Regions from separate parts of the Homo sapiens genome. Here region 1 is linked to region 2. A link means that fine-mapping ties the variant in region 2 to the expression of a gene that starts in the linked region. Tissue or cell type: monocytes after R848. Region 2 holds a variant in brackets; the other region holds the start of a gene. All regions are shown on one strand. Distances are between the middles of the regions.

Region 1 (8,176 bases), 53 kb after region 2:
GCAGTTTGCAACACGCTAAACCCCGCCACCTTGCTCCTGATATGAGAGAGCCCAGTTGAACATAACTGTGTAGAGGTGTTGGACTCAGTTTATTCTAGCAGGCGCAACCTCCGAGACCATCCTTGAACATCAGTAGGCTGTGAGTGGTACGTGGACGGAAGCAGCTTCGCCAGCCCCTGCAAAGTGACTCTGAGGAAGACGACAAGCCCTGCTCCAGTCACAACTGGAAGCTGACTGGTCCACACACGGCCGAAGCATGAGAAAACTCATCGTGGGACTCATTTTCCTTAAAATTTGGACTTGTACAGTAAGGACTTCAACTGACCTTCCTCAGACTGAGGACTGTTCCCAGTGTATACATCAAGTCACTGAGGTAGGACAAAAAGTTGCCACAGTCCTATTATTTTATGATTATTGTAAGTGTACCAGGACTCTAAAAAAAAAAAAAGTTTGTATAATGCTATTCTATGCAAGGTATGTAGCCCAAGAAATGACCAACCTGATGTGTGTTATGACCTGAGTCTCCCATGACCACAGCTTTTGAAATAAGATTAAGGACTGAGGACTGGTAGGGACTCATAAACGATACGAGTAAAGTGTTAGCCAAAATGAAAGAAAAAGGGGTGCCCAAACAAGTCACTTTAAAGTTTGATGCCTGTGCTGTCATTAATAGTAATAAGTTAAAAATAGAATGTGGTTCCCTTAATTAGAAAAGAGGCCATATGACAAAAAATAAGTACATTTGTCATAAATTAAAACTGTGTGGAAATAAATGTAAATACTGGTCTTGTGTCATTTAGGCTACTTAAATAAAAAATAAAAAGGATCCTGTCCACCTTCAAAAAGGAAAAAGTGGCCCTTCCTGTACCAGTGGTCAGTGTAACCCCTTAGAACTAGTAATAACCAACCCCCTTGATCCTCGCTGGAAAAAAGGGGAGCATGTAACCCTAGGAATCAATGGGGCTGAACTGGATCCTTGAGTAAATATCATGGTTTGAGGAGAAATTTATAAACGCTCTCCTGAGACAGTATTTCAAACCTTCTATGATCAACTGAATGTGCCTGCACCAGAAATTCCAGGAAAAACAAGACATTTGTTTTTGCAATTAGCCGAGCATGTGGCCCAGTCTCTCAATGTCACTTCATGTTATGTGTGTGGACGAACTGTAATGGGAGATCAATGGCCACGGGAAGCCCGAGAATTAGTACCTACAGACCCAGTTCCTGATGAATTCCCGGCTCAAAAGAATCACCCTGATAACTTCTGGGTCCTAAAAGCCTCAATCATTAGACAATACTGTATATAGCAAGAGTGGGGAAGGACTTCACCTTTCCTGTGGGAAGACTCAGCTGCTTAGGCAAAAACTGTATAATACTACTACAAAAACAGCCACCTAGTGGAGTTCAAACCACACTAAGAAAAATCCATTTAGTAAATTCCCAAAGTTGCAAACTGTGTGAACCCACCCGGAGTCCCACAGGGACTGGACAGCCCCCACTGGATTATACTGGATATGTAGGCATAGAGTTTACACCAAATTACCCGACCAGTGGGCAGGTAGTCATGTTATTGGCACTATTAAACCATCTTTCTTCCTACTGCCCATAAAGACAGGCGAACTCCTGGGCTTCCCTGTCTGTGCTTCCCGCAAAAAGAGAAGCATAGCTATAAAAAATTCAAAAGATAATACATGGCCCCCTGAAAGAATCATACAATATTATGGGCCTGGTACTTAGGCACAAGATGGCTCCTAGGGATACCCGACCCCCATTTACATGCTCAACCGAATCATACGGTTACAAGCTGTCTTAGAAATAATCACTAATAAGACCGGCAGAGCCTTGACTATTCTGGCCTGGCAAGAAACTCAGATGAGAAATGCTATCTATCAAAATAGATTGGCTCTCGACTACTTGCTAGCAGCTGAAGGAGAGGTCTGTAAAAAATTTAACCTTACTAATTGCTGTCTACACATAGATGATCGAGGGCAATTAGTTGAAGACACAGTTAGAAATATGACAAAACTGGCACATGTGCCCGTGCAAGTGTGGCATGGATTTGGTCCTGGGGCCATGTTTGGAAAATGGTTCCCAGCACTAAAAAGATTTAAAACTCTTATATTAGGAGTTACAATAGCAATAGAAACCTGCGTTCTGCTCCCTTGTTTGCTACCCATACTTCTTCAAATGATAAAAAGCTTCATCGCTACCTTAGTTCACCAAAATGCTTCAGCACAACTGTACTATATGAATCACTATCGATCTGTCTTGCAAGAAAACATAGGTAGTAAAAATAAAAGTGACAACTCCCACTACTGAGTGAGATTCTCAGAGAGGGAGAATAAGGGAGACCACCCCTCATATTGTTTTACGCCCAATTTCTGCCTCCAAAGAGAGAAGTAAAAACTAAAAGGCAGAAATGAAATCCACAAGCAGACAGCCTGCACCACACCCTGGGCCTGGTAGTTAAAGATCGACGCCTGACCTAATCAGTGATGCTATCTATAGATTACAGACGTTATATAGAAAAGCACCGTGAAAATCCCTGTCCTGTTCTGTTCCGTTCTAATTACGGGTGCATGCAGCCCCCAGTCACGTACCCCCTGCTTGCTCAATCAATCACGACCCTCTCACGCAGACCCCTGAAGAGTTGTGAGCCCTTAAAAGGGACAGGAATTGCTCACTCGGGGAGCTCGGTTGTTGGAGACGTGAGTCTTGCCGAAGCTCCCAGCTGAATAAAGCCCTTCTTTAACTCGGTGTCTGAGGGGTTTTGTCTGCGGCTTGTCCTGCTACACTCTGGTGGGAAAGACACCGCAGCAGGGGAGCAGGGTGCGCAGGGTGCAGTGGGTGACGCTCATTCGCTGAAAACTGACCCTGCTTTCAAAGCCTTGTCAGTTCCCAAAGCTGTATGAAGCCTTTCCTGAGCCTCAACCTCTAGAGTCTAATTTCATCCTCTGTATTTTCCCCTTTGTTAGTCCAAACTGCGTCATTTTGTAAGCCCCTTTCCATTTTGTAGACCTTGGTCAAAGTGAAACATTCCACGGGGGTTCGAGCCATGAGAAACAGCCTGCCTCTTAACATATTCTGCTGGGACAAAGCGCCAGGAACACCACATTCTGCCGGAACCACCTCATCCTGGGAACACGTTAACATCTTCCCGGACAGCAAGCCATACTGCCTAGATCCCTCCTGCCCAGGCCTATGAGTACCCCAGCCTGTAATCGCTGGTGGGCTCTGGCATTAAGCTGGCCCCCGACAGGTGTTTGCAATACACCTGTGTTGCTGTAGAGCCGCCCGCGCGCCGGCAATCTCACTGTGCGTCATTCTTTAACCTTCACCTTCCCTTCAAAACCTAACACCCTTGACGTTTATATTCAGGCTATTATATATACATACACACATACACCCTTCTGAATCCTCCCAGGAGAATATAAAACCATGGGTTAAACTGCTACACTTCAGCTTCAGTGGCTGCCTTTCAGTGCTTCAAATACACCAACCTCTTTCCCACCCCGGGACCTGCACGAGAAAGCTGCTCCACTCACCCGCCGTGCTCTTTCACTCACCCTTCAGGTGTCTTCAATATCGCCTCTCAGGCCTTTCCCAACCACCGGTTTAAAGTCGGCTCCCCACAAATAAATACATATTCTCCCTCACAGTACTTCGCACAACACCTGGCACAGCGAGAGCACTGAACCAACACTCATTCAATGAGGAACACGAGGTAAGAACCAAGACCCCCCAAGGTCGCCGTACTTTGTCTGGTAGGAGAAGCTTTCTGCCCAGCAAGGTCCGACCCAGATGAAACCCCGTCCAAGTCTGCAGCACCCCCGTGAGTCCAGCCCGCTAAACTGTGAAGAATTTAAATACACGACACCTGCCCTCAAAAGCTTGAGGGCACCCCTGAGCTGCCATCGAGGTGGGGGCGTCAACGACAGGCGCTCAGTAAGTGCTCCTGAGGCAACTGCCGGGCTGTCCTGGACCTGGTGAATCCTTTCGGGGTTCAGCAAAGGCGGACGCTGACCGGGCCAAGGAGTGGGACCTGCAGTGCTGGACCACCCTTTTCCAAGCGCAGAAGTGCCGTGCCCGCCGGCTCTCAACAGGGCAAGAGGCCCCTCTCGCCGTGCAGAGCGCAGCGCTTGCGGCGGGGACAGCAGAGGCGGGACGGGCGTCACGGAGTTCCCGGGTCCTCGCGCGGTCACTTACCTGGCCTCAGCTATCCGCTGAAAAAGGGGCGGACGGCCTCCCGGGATCCGAGCCGATATCGCGCGCGGCGCCGCGGGGCAACCTGAAGCCGTGTGCGTGCGTGTGCGTTCACGCAGGGGCTCACCCAGCGGCCACGGGCTTCTGAAGACCCGGGTGGGAAGTGCGGCCCGGGAAAGCGCAAGCGTCTCCATGGCAACGAGGGCGGACGGCGTCAGAGCGAGTCGCTTCCGGAAGTGACGTGCGGAAGGGGTGCCCGGGACGAAGCCATGGCCCTGGAGGCGGCGGGAGGGCCGCCGGAGGAAACGCTGTCACTGTGGAAACGGTAATGCTGTCAGGCGACGCGCAGGAGGCGGGGGCCGAGGCCGGGCGGCCCTTCGCGGACCCTCCGAGCTCATAGTCTTCAGGCTGTGGAATCGGAGCTGCCACCGCCCGAGACTCCAAAGCAAAGCCCAGTTTCCGGCGCGGAAGCGGAGGGATCTCAGGAATTGTAGTCCGCGGGGTGGGCGCGGTTCTCGCTTCCGGCCAGTTTGTCTGGCCTGCGCTTGCGCGGGTCTCCGCCGCCTGGGCTCCTAGGGACTGTGGCCTCGGCGGTATGTCCCTTGCTTTCCCTTGAAGCGGGAGAAGACCCGGCAGAGGCGCTCTGTCCGCTGCAGCCGCGCGGGTGGAGGAGGCAGAGTCTGAGGTGTGACCCCGACCAAGTTTGACGCTTCTGTCCTCCTAGGGAGCAAGCTCGGCTGAAGGCCCACGTCGTAGACCGGGACACCGAGGCGTGGCAGCGAGACCCCGCCTTCTCGGGTCTGCAGAGGGTCGGGGGCGTTGACGTGTCCTTCGTGAAAGGGGACAGTGTCCGCGCTTGTGCTTCCCTGGTGGTGCTCAGCTTCCCTGAGCTCGAGGTAACCTGGGAGGACGCCGAGCTCGAGGCGGGCCCCTCGGTGGGCTCGGGCGTGCGGTCTCCGGGACAGGGAGCAGTGCAAGCGTAGAACCCGGCTTCTCGTTTTGTAGGATGTCATTAATAGTCTGGGGAGTTGGCCGGGCGCGGTGGCTCACGCCTGCAATCCCAGCACTTTGGGAGGCTGAGGCGGGGGAATCACCTGAGGTCGGGAGTTCGAGACCAGCCTGACCAACATGGAGAAACCCGGTCTCTACTAAAAATACAAAATTAGACGGGTGTGGTGGCATATACCTGTAATCCCAGCTACTCGGAAGGCTGAGGCGGGAGAATCGCTTGAACCCGGGAGGCGGAGGTTGCGGTGAGCCAACATCACGCCATTGCACTCCAGCCTCGGCAACAAGAGCGAAACTCCATCTCAAAAAAAAAAAAAAAAAAAAAAAGTCTGGGGAGTCTTGGAAGGGAAAAAAAGGCAAAAATTAAGGGAATTCTGTGACTATTAAGAATCAGCTCATGAGCTTTATCTTCAAGTCTGATTGTTATCTTGGGTTCTTCATCTCAGTGACCTGTCCACCACGCTCCCAGTTGCCCAAGCTGGAGATCTGCATCCTCCTGGGCCCCTCCGTTCCTCTCGCGTCCAGTTGCACACTAGCTCGCTTTTATTCTGCCTCTTAAATGTCGCTGGAATCTGTCCCCTTGTCTGTTTCCCCTCTGCTCCTTCCCTGGCTGTGCCACCATCACTCCTGTGGGTTCCTGAGCAGCATTTTCATGGGTGCCCTGGCTCAAATGTTCCTCCTCAGTGGTTTCTTTTCCATACTGCCAGCAGACCAATTTTCCTAAAAAGCAAGTATTTTCCTCAAAAGCAACAAGTCCCCTCCCTCCCTCCCTCCCTCCCTTCCTTCCTTCCTTCCTTCCTCCCTTCCTTCCTCTCTCTGTCTCTCTTTCCTTCCTTTCCCCTTCCCCCACTCTGTGCCCAGGCTGAAGTGCAGTGGCATAATCTTGGCTCACTGTCAAGATCTGATCTCAACCTCCTGGACTCAAGTGATCCTCCCACCTTAGCCTGAGTAGCTAGGACCACAGGTGTGAGCCACTACACCCGGCTTATTTTTTTATTTTTTGTAGAGACAGGATCTCACTATGTTGCCCAGGGTGGTCTCCAGCTCCTGGGCTCAAGGGATCCTCCTACCTTGGCCTCCCCAAGTGCTGAGATTACAGGTGGGAACCACCACACCCAGCCCACAAGTCCTCTTAGAACATTGAAGTGCCCTTCTCATGACCTCATGGTGAATAAAGTTCACTCTGGTTGGCATGGCTTCAAGGCCCGTCATGACCTGTCCCCTGCGTAATTTAATATGACGCTGGAGGCTCAGCCCTCACCACTATTCTCAGTTCTTCCCACCTCCTACAGCCCACTGTGAGTCCCTCACGTGTTTGCTACGCTGTATTTGGCGGCCTGACCTTTGCAGTAATGTTTCTTCTGGAAGGGTTTCCATCTGGCTAACTACTACTCATCTCTTTGGGCTCAGTTTAGACATGACGTCCTCCACTAAGCTCCCTCTCATCCCACAAGACGAGGACTTGTCCCTCAGCACCATGTCTTAGTCCGTTTGGGCTGCTGTAATAGAATACCTTAGACTGGGTGGCCTACCCACAGCAGGAATTTATTTCTCACAGTTCTGGAGGCTGGAGGCTCAAGATCAGGGTGCCAGCGCAATCAGGTTGTGGTGACGGCGCTCTTTCAGGTTGCACAGGGCCAGCTTCTTAACCGTGTTCTCACATGGTGATCCACTCACCTCCCTAGAGGCCCCACCTCGTAATACCATCACCTATGGGTTATAATTTCAACATAGGAATTTGGGGAGGACACCAGCATTTAGACCGTAGCAACCCTCTGCTTCCTCTTGTCTTGCTGGGATGGAACTGGCCTGTCTTCCCTACTGGAATATAAACTCCATGATGGTAGAAACCATGTTGCTTTGCCCACCATGGATAGCATGAGGAAGACGCTGGACTCTTCCTTCAAGAGATACGTGTGTGAATGGACAGTGGGCTCATGATTCACATAAGAGTCAACAGCTCCGGAAGCCTCTTGGCGTCACTCGCATTGCTCCTCTGCTGACTCCCGAAGGTGACAAACGTCTTCCTGCTTCCATGGCTTTGTGCTTTACTTGGGAGGCCCTTTTCAGTCCAAATCAAGCAAAAATGTACTGAGTGCCTACTGTGTGCTAAGATTGGGATATTCAGCAGCCCCTACTCTAAGAGGTCCCCTGGCCATTGTGTAGGCTAGCATAGGGAGTGGGGACACAGTCTTAGGGTCCTGACTACTCATGCTCACACCCAACTCTGCCACTCCCCACTTTGCCCTCTAGGCCTCTGTCTCCTTTTTTCTGACTTGAGGATGATAGTGGTATTAATATCCAGCTCACAGAATTGTGATGAGCAGTACATGAAATGCATGGAAAGCAGTTAACACAGCATTCCCTTCCCCCTCCAACTTCTCCTGGCTGCAAATTAATCACCTCATCTGCATCCTGGGCCTCTTTTGAATGCACATGCTGTTAGAGCGCTTCTCACATTGTATTAAAGTTAGTCATTTATGATTCCATTTTTCCCACTGACTGTAGGTTCTCAAGAGTAGGGTGTACCATATTTCTTTTACAACCCCAGCACCAAGCAAAGCACCTGCTACTTCGTCGGTATTCATTGTTCCGGCTATGAAAGCTTAGACTAGGAAAGGATCTTGGAACAGTCTGGTCCACTGGTTCCTGAATGCCCGACCGTGGACCTGCAGGAGCAGAATCACCCAGAAGTGTGTTGAGAAACAGATTCCGTAGGCACATCCACAGAGACAGAAAGTGGATCCTTGGGCCTTGGAGTTGGGGTGGGATGGATGGGAAGTGACTGCTGATGAGGATGAGGTTTATTTAGGGGTTAAGGAAAATGTTCTAAAGTTAGATTGTAGTGATATTGCACAACTCTGTAAATACCAAAACCATCGCATTATATGTTTTAAACAAGTGAACTTTATGGTATGTTAATTGTATCTCAGTAAACCTGTTAGGAAAAAAAACAGGCCGGGCG
Region 2 (8,176 bases):
GGGAGGATTACTTGTGCCCAGGAGTTTGAGACCAGCCAGCTAGGGCAACATAGTGAGACCCCATCTCAACAAAAAATAAAATAAAATTTAAAAATTAGCTGGGCATGGTGGCACTGGGTGTGTTGTTCCTGTCTACTTGCACGGCTGAGGTGGGAGGATCGTTTGAGCCCAGGTATTCCAGGTTATGACGATCTATGATTGTGTCACTACACCGCAGTTGGCGTGACAGAGTGAGACCCTCACATACATGTTTTAAAAATAAAAAAGCAAACACTACTTCACCCTTCCAGTAACCTAATGACAGTTTATTAGATGTAGAATTAAGTTCCATTCCAGTTCCGTCTCTAATCTTAGACATCTTTGTGAGTCTGTTTTCTAGGACTTAAAAATGATGGAAATGTCAAGTTATTGCTGTCGCTGTAGTGTGGTAAATAGTAGACTAGTTGTTTTGTTAATGCTCAAGAAGGAACAAAATGTCAAAAGGTGGCAGACCGCCACTCTGGTTCCTCTGACCCGTGGTGGCCCATCTCTCTTCTGTGCTGCAGGCACACCCTCTGGAAGCGGGTCCAAGGTGCTGTCACCCCTCTGCTGGCGAGCATGATATCATTCATCGACAGAGACGGCAACCTAGAGTTACTGACCAGGCCAGATACTCCGCCCTGGGCAAGAGATCTTTGGATGTTTATTTTCAGTGACACGATGCTTCTGAACATTCCTCTTGTGATGAATAATGAAAGGTGAGTGGAAGGCTTTCTTTCCCTGGGGAGAGAAACTATCAGAACACAGCAGGACCCTAATATGCTCTCCCAAGTGCTGGGTGAAACGCAGCCCTCAACTTCAGAGCAACGTTGACATGGGTGCTTTCTGCAGTAACAATAGGAAGTTTGGCCGGGCATGGTGGCTCACGCCTGTAATCCCAGCACTTTGGGAGGCCGAGGCAGGTGGATCATGAGGTCAAGAGATCAAGACCGTCCTGGCCAACGTGGTGAAACCCCGTCTCTACTAAAAATACAAAAATTAGCTGGGCGTGGTGGCGCGTGCCTGTATTCCCAGCTATTTGGGAGGCTGAGGCAGGAGAATTGCTTGAACCTGGGAGGCGGAGGTTGCAGTGAGCCGAGATGGCGCCACTGCACTCCAGCCTGGTGACAGAGCAAGACTCTGTCTCAAAAAAAAAGAATAGGAAGTTTACGAAGCTCTGAGAAATTTCTGTTTTATCTCCACCCTCCTCATTTCCCTGCTTTCAGAGCACTGGTTCTAGCCAGACCCAGCATGGCGTGACACGGAGACAGTGCGCTGCGAACAGCCCCACAATCTGTGCTCCTTACCCCTGGGATCTGTGCTCCCTCCCCGTCCCTCATTCCCTGGTGGAGCGGCACAGCCCCCACCCCCTTCCGCAGGCCTGATGATGTGCGGCTCAGGCTCAGCTCCCAATAGCTTCCACTTCAGCTTTCAGGGGCTTCAATTCTGGATGTAGATTTATAAAGAATATAGAAATAAATGTGCCCAGGCTCGGTGGCTCATGCCTATAACCCCAGCAATTTAGTAGGCTGAGGCAGGAAAGTTTCTTGAACCCAGGGGTTGAAGACCAGCTTGGGCAACATAGTGAGACCCCATCACTACAAAAAATTTAAAAATTAGGCATAACGTGGTGCGCACCTGTAGTCCCAGCTACTCTAGAAGCTGAGGCGGGAGGATTGCTTGAGCCCAGGAGTTTGAGGTGAGATAGGATCACACCACTCACTGCACTCTAGCCTGGGTGGTGACAGAGTGAGACTCTATCTCAAAAAAAAAAAAAAAAAAAAAAAAAAAAGAGTGAGAGAGGGAGGGAGACAGAAGGAAGAAAGAGAAAGAAAGAGCGAGAGAAAGAGAGAAAGAAAGTAAAGAAAGAAAGAGTGAGAGAAAGAAAGAAATGGAATTTGAATTGCCAGTGGAAACACTTATTTAAAAGACAAGGCGCTGCTGATGTTCATGAAGCAAAGACTCTAACAAGTTGTGCTCTGTGTTACAAGTTATCAAAGCCAGACAGGTTCAGGAACCAGAAGACTTGGTTCTGCCCGAGATTTTGGGCAACACACTTGACCCCTGTCAGCCTTGGTTTGTTTTTGTTTTGCCTGTGAAACAAAGATTGCATAAGACAGTTCCCTAGTTCTGTCATAACAGAAACCCTGTACTGTGAAACAGATCAGCGCCGTCTGCCTGGCCTGTTGGCCCCTTTGTTTTTGAGGTCTGAGAAGAGCTGGCATCAGTGGCAGATCTTATCTTGTGTTTTGAGTGACGTCTCACAAACCCTCTTCTTATCATCCCTCACCTTATTGCAGACATAAAGGTGAGATGGCCTACATCGTGGTGCAGAACCACATGAACCTTTCCGAGAACGCTTCCAACAACGTCCCTTTCAGCTGGAAAATCAAGGACTATCTGGAGGAGCTGTGGGTCCAGGCTCAGTACATCACAGACGCAGAAGGTGAGGCTACCTCAAGACAGGTCAGATTCAGCACAGGTGAATCACAAAGGGATTGCCTGACAGTGAAAAGCAGATGGGTGGCTAGAATTGCAAGGTGAATTTTGGAGTTTTTAGTTTTCACACTTTGTTTGTGCAGTAAGCGTCCAATTTACGTCACCGCGTCATTTTAAAGTTTCTGCTGAAGGAGTGAGAGGCCCCGGCGGGACCAGAAACCTTTCGATCCTATGGCAGCAGGAGCCTGTGAGATGGTTTTTAGTGCCGTGATGGCCAGGGATATGGCGAAATGGGGTGTGTTCTGGCAAGAGGAGGACTGTCGCCTCTATCAGCTGGTCATTCCCATTCTGGGCCTTCTCAGACTGGGGCACTGGACTCGGAAGATGCCCCCAGGAGAGGCGTTCTCAGAAGGCACGAGCGCCTGGAGCATCCCCTACTCCCAGGTGCCCCATCAGGAGGCACCTCCCAGCTGTGTCTCCCGAGTCACAGCCCAGACACAGTGCTGAGCTCTGCTGCCAGATGCCAGAAGATTTGCCCTAGTCCAGAAAAACCAACGACAACGCAACACTTTTACAAAAGCCATCTTTCATACATGCAATAGTCTTTTCCACGTTTACTTATCGTACCATTTGGAAGACTCAGGGTGGCCTTCTTTTCTAGGTTACCATTCTGCCACTTTTTCTCAAAGCAGTCTCTCTCCTCATGAGCATATTCCTTTCTCAGGACAATACCCCAACTGACCCTGCTTTTCTATGACAGCATGCGAATTAGGGGCTGCACCCCGCCCACTAGAAGCCAGATCTTTCTGGCTTGCATGCTCTGTGACCCCCAGCCCCTGAAGAGCAGCCCACTTGTTCCTAATTTACTTGGACCCGGGGGTTCCTGAAGCATGCTGTGACCTGTAGCCATGCAACATACAATGTAGCCATGCAACATACAACTCAGTCTTATCTAGATGTTTCTCTTTGGGGCTAGCTTGGCTGTTTCTGACCTAAATTTGACACTGTTTCCGCCTTCCTTTATTTTATTCCACTGGAAAAATATCCTAGGCCAGGCGCAGTGGTTCACAACACCTTGGGAGGCCAAGGCCGGCAGATCACCTGAGGTCAGGAGTTCGAGACCAGCCTGACCAACATGGTGAAACCCCGTCTCTACTAAAAATACAAAAAATTAGCTGGGTGTGGTGGTGCATGCCTGTA[G/A]TCCCAGCTACTTGGTAGGCTGAGGCAGGAGAATCACTTGAACCTGGGAGGCGGAGGTTGCAGTGAGCAGAGATCACGCTACCCACCGCACTCCAGCCTGGGCAACAGAGTAAGACTCCATCTCCAAAAAAAAGGAAAAAGAAAAATATCCTAAATGTCTAGACAGTGACTATTCCTTCAATTCCCTACAAAATCAGGCAGTTGGTACCCCTTTGTCTACGAGCTCCCATTCAACAAGGCGTCCCCATTCCCCTTCACTCCGGAGCCCCCTGGAGGCAGGGGAGCGCCATGACTTAGACGCACTCCAGGCCGCTCCTTGGTTTCCTCTCTGCAGGACTGCCCAAGAAGTTCGTGGACATCTTTCAGCAGACTCCTCTGGGCAGGTTTCTTGCCCAGCTCCATGGAGAGCCGCAGCAGGAACTTCTTCAGTGTTACTTGAAGGATTTCATTCTCTTGACCATGCGTGTGTCAACGGAGGAGGAATTAAAGGTAGATGTTTAGATACTGGCTAAGGGTCAGGTGTAGAGCTTGCATGATGGGGACTGGATGCAGACACGGAGACGTTTCCTCAGCTGCCTGGAGCTGGTGCTGTGAAGTCTGGGAACAGAACATGGTCAGCGAAGGGTGCCGGTGGGTGAAGGGGTCGCCCAGTCTCCTCTCAATATTCAGTGCTACACCCTCAGTCCACCGCCCAGGGGCTCCTAAAACACGGAGCTTTCTGTGAACATGAGAAGACCTCCAATTTCCTTGACATAGCTTCTTTTTAAATGTTGAGTTTCTCTTGAAAAAAATTAAATACGTAACTAACCCTACAGGGTAAGAATAAACAAGTGAAATTCAATAGAAAGTCATACTTTTGACTACCTAAAAATTTTAAACTTCAGTACATAAAAAAGGAGAGTGACAAATTTAAGAACATCCTTACAGCTAATATGACTAGAGGTTAATATTCTTAGGAATCAATAAGAAAATACCCTAAGTTTTAAAAAATGGGTAAACGTTATAAAACAACAATTTTATAATCTCATTAAGCATATCAACATCCAGGAAACATTTGAAAAATTGCTTAGCCTTACTATTAATAGCAAATCAACACAACAGTTTTTAGATATCATGTTTACGTATTCATTTTGCAAAGCTGATTTTTAAAAACAACAGCCGCCGGCCAGTGCTGCAAAGAAATAGCCAGGCCACGCGGCTGACAGTGTAGCGTGCACAGTGGGCGCCCTGCAGGGCTGCGTGGCAGAACAGTTGAGCACCTTATCCGATCTGAACTGCTGACTCTGTCCTGAGGAAACTACTGGAGATGTGGACAAATATTTGGTTCACAGGGATGTCCTTTTCAGCTTTGCTTCGAAAAATAAGAAATAGTTTAATTGTCCGGAAATACAGGATGGGCAAATTAAAGTATGGCCGTATGATGGGTTATTGAGCAGCCATTAAAACCATGTTTTTCAAGTATACTCAGTCATAGGGAAAGTTCATGATGTCATGTTCAGTGGCAAAAAGCCCAGACGACACGGTGACCTTAACGTGGGAGGAGAGGCAGATAGAAAACTGGACAGAAGCAAACGGGACAGAATAGCACACATGGTTTCTAATTTCCTCTTTTATGGTTTTCCAATAGTTCGGATTTCCCACGGGGAAAACATACCATTTTTGTAATTTAAAAATATATTCTAAAAGCTTTTTTGAATCCCAGTTTCTGCAGATGGCTCTGTGGTCCTGCACTAGGAAACTGAAAGCGGCGTCAGAAGCGCCCGAGGAAGAGGTTTCCTTACCGTGGGTGCACCTTGCCTACCAGCGTTTCAGAAGCCGTCTGCAGAACTTTTCCAGAATCCTGACCATCTACCCTCAGGTTCTCCACAGCCTGATGGAAGCCCGTTGGAACCATGAGCTGGCTGGATGTGAGATGGTATGGCCCTCCTCCGCCTGCCCTGAGCAAGCCTTGTGGTGCTTCCAACTCCACTCTGGGAATGGAGAGCTTCTGGGGCTGTGTTCCAAGTGGGAGATTTCTTCACAAGGCACATACCTTAGCTGAATTCAGAGATGTTAAGGACACATCTCGCTGACGCTTCTCACATCCTAGACAATGAAAGTTTAGGTCGCAAGCCTGGGACACAAGTATACATGCAGCTAACAGCCGGGGCCTCTGGTGGGCCGGTGGGAGGGGCACCGCTCAGCCACGCCCTGCTGTCCGTCTCCCCAGACCCTGGACGCATTTGCCGCAATGGCCTGCACGGAGATGCTGACAAGAAACACCCTGAAGCCCAGTCCCCAGGCGTGGCTACAGTTGGTGAAGAATCTTTCCATGCCGCTGGAGCTCATCTGCTCCGATGAGCACATGCAAGGCAGCGGGAGCCTGGCCCAGGCTGTCATCAGGGAAGTCAGGTGAGACCCAGGAGCCCTCACCCACTGCTTCATCTGGCGCGCGCTCACCAGGAGCCTGCCAAGTGCCAGGCATGTCCATGAGAAGACGGGCAGGTGCTCCTGCCATGGGAGGGGCTCCGTCCTCACCCGTTCACTCCGCATTTGCCGAACCCTTAGTGAGTGCCAGGCGTCTCATTAGGGTGCTGGAGACACGAGAGGCGGCTGTGCATTCAGGGAGCGCACTGTGTACTGGGGCCGTAGAAAGGCAGACGGGCTATTGTGATGCCGTGTGAGAAATGCTGTGGTAGAAAGGACACCCCGGGCGGGCAGGTGCACAGAGCAGGACAGGCCCTCAGGGCCAGAGTCCACTTCCCTAAAGGTGAGGTGGGACTTGACAGGCGCAGGATCATGCAGTGAGCGGGTTGTGGTGGTACCCCATGCAGAGGCATCACAGTGGGACACCGAGTCCCAGCTAAGCTGAGCGTCTGAGAGCGAGAGCTGGGGGCGGGCCAGGAAGTATGTCACATAGGGCTTGCTTGTAATCCCAGCCGCTGGGCCTGGACCCCGGGTCCCGCATCTCTTCTCCCGTCTCCCTCCTCGTTTCACCCTTGGGTTCCTTGGTGGGAGCCGAGTGAGTGAGTGAGTGGCGCCCTCTTTTGACAGAGCCCAGTGGAGTCGGATTTTCTCCACCGCACTCTTCGTGGAGCACGTGCTCCTAGGAACCGAGAGCCGCGTCCCCGAGTTACAGGGGCTGGTGACCGAGCACGTCTTCTTACTAGACAAGGTGAGTACTTGGGCTGGCCTCAGCACATGCACGGATCCACCCTTTTCCGAAAGGAAGAACAGCACTGACAGTGATCTGCGGCTGGGAGACGCTCTTTTGGCTCTGACCGTTTTGTCTAGACATGCAAAGGAAGGTGATTTCATCACTAGGCCATTACATTTTCCATGTTTAATTGTTTAATTATTTACCCTCTGCTGATTGCTAAGTCAGAGCATATCATTTAGAAGTGATTCCAGGAACTGTGTGCAGAAAGGGGCTGACGCAGGGAACATGCTTGTGAAACCTTCGGCAGGGATTACCTGGCCTTTGGAGTGACCCCAGAACAGACCACTAGCCTGGCCATCTGTGGAAGCTGTTACCATTTTCATAGTCATGGAGACAAGGATGTCAGAGAATGCCACCGGGGTTTGGGGTCTTCAAAACAGTGCTGTCAACAGAACCAAGGAACAGGAAGCCACCATGCCTGTCACTCAACACCCTTCATAAAGCTACTAATGTGGGGTGGTCTGCAGAAAGAAACCTGTGACCCTACAGTGATGCCCCTCTGTGGCCACGCAGTGGTGTCCAGCAACAGTGGCCACTCAGCCAAACACAGCCTCAGCCTCTGCCTCACCCGCACCCGTGACCTTCACGTGAGCACATCCAGAGCCCTCACCGCCAGGGGGTCTGGAAGAGGCAGCGCTGGCTGTCCGACCTTTGGAGCACAGGAAGGTTTACTAAAAGGAGGCCAGCATGGATGCTGGATGTGTTGACTCTGACCTATCAAAACATCAGCGGCTTAGACACAGTATCAGCTGATTTCCCACCCAGGATGGGTATGAGCAGCCCAAGGCTAAGGTACCAGCTCCCCGGAGGCTGGCACGGAGTCAGGTGCCCACGCTCCGTCTTGTCCCTTCATTGTCCCTAATGTTCAGCTTCCACCCCGTGGCCTGGCGTCACAGCCTGTGGGACAGAAAGCAGGGGAGGTAGAGGACAGGCCGTTTTCCTTAAGAGCCCAATCCCGGACACGCACACGCCACACCAGCTCGTGTCTCGTGGTCCTAAACTTAGGCACTCGGCCTTATCTGGTTGCAAGAAACTGAGGAGTTTTTCGTGGCATGGTCATGTTCCAGGTGGAACTTGAGTTCTTCTGCTGAAGGAAAAGGCGGAGAGAGGATAGTAGGACACAGCCGGTGCCCCCCTTCCACCCTTTTCCCCACACCCACACAGCATGCAGCCTCTCCAAGTCTCATCATGTCTCGGCGCTCTGGGAGATGCACAGGGCTTTCAGCCAGGTCCAGCGTGGGTCATAAGGGCCAGGTGCCCATAAACCCAAAGGTAAAGGAGCTGGCCCCTGCCTGCTCACATGCCCACAGGATTTGGGAG

Which allele goes with the higher level. Alleles are on the strand shown, and positions count from the first base shown. SD is a standard deviation of normalised expression in the study named.
As copies of G replace A in region 2, the expression in monocytes after R848 of the gene that starts at base 4,446 in region 1 goes up (moderate effect, 0.52 SD a copy in Quach 2016).

The links. PIP is the estimated chance that this variant, and not a neighbour inherited with it, causes the effect.
Region 1: it holds the start of RNF213-AS1, and the variant in region 2 is fine-mapped to the expression of RNF213-AS1 in monocytes after R848 (Quach 2016, PIP 0.95).

What each region holds. Positions count from the first base shown.
Region 1 is chr17:80,410,723-80,418,898 of GRCh38, forward strand. It overlaps RNF213-AS1 (RNF213 antisense RNA 1), which reads right to left and starts at 4,446. Exons shown (of 2, transcript NR_029376.1): 1 at 4,207-4,446. ENDOV (endonuclease V) reads left to right here and starts at 4,445. Exons shown (of 10, transcript NM_173627.5): 1 at 4,445-4,528; 2 at 4,928-5,099. The coding sequence starts at 4,473. RefSeq lists an enhancer at 4,878-4,967.
Region 2 is chr17:80,357,743-80,365,918 of GRCh38, forward strand. It overlaps RNF213 (ring finger protein 213), which reads left to right. Exons shown (of 68, transcript NM_001256071.3): 37 at 546-737; 38 at 2,319-2,464; 39 at 3,992-4,146; 40 at 5,360-5,572; 41 at 5,867-6,048; 42 at 6,691-6,811. All of the region lies in intron 1 of RNF213-AS1 (RNF213 antisense RNA 1), which reads right to left. Among named protein-coding and RNA genes, the nearest start is that of ENDOV, 53 kb to the right of the region's middle. The variant G/A (reference allele first, on the strand shown) is at 3,658.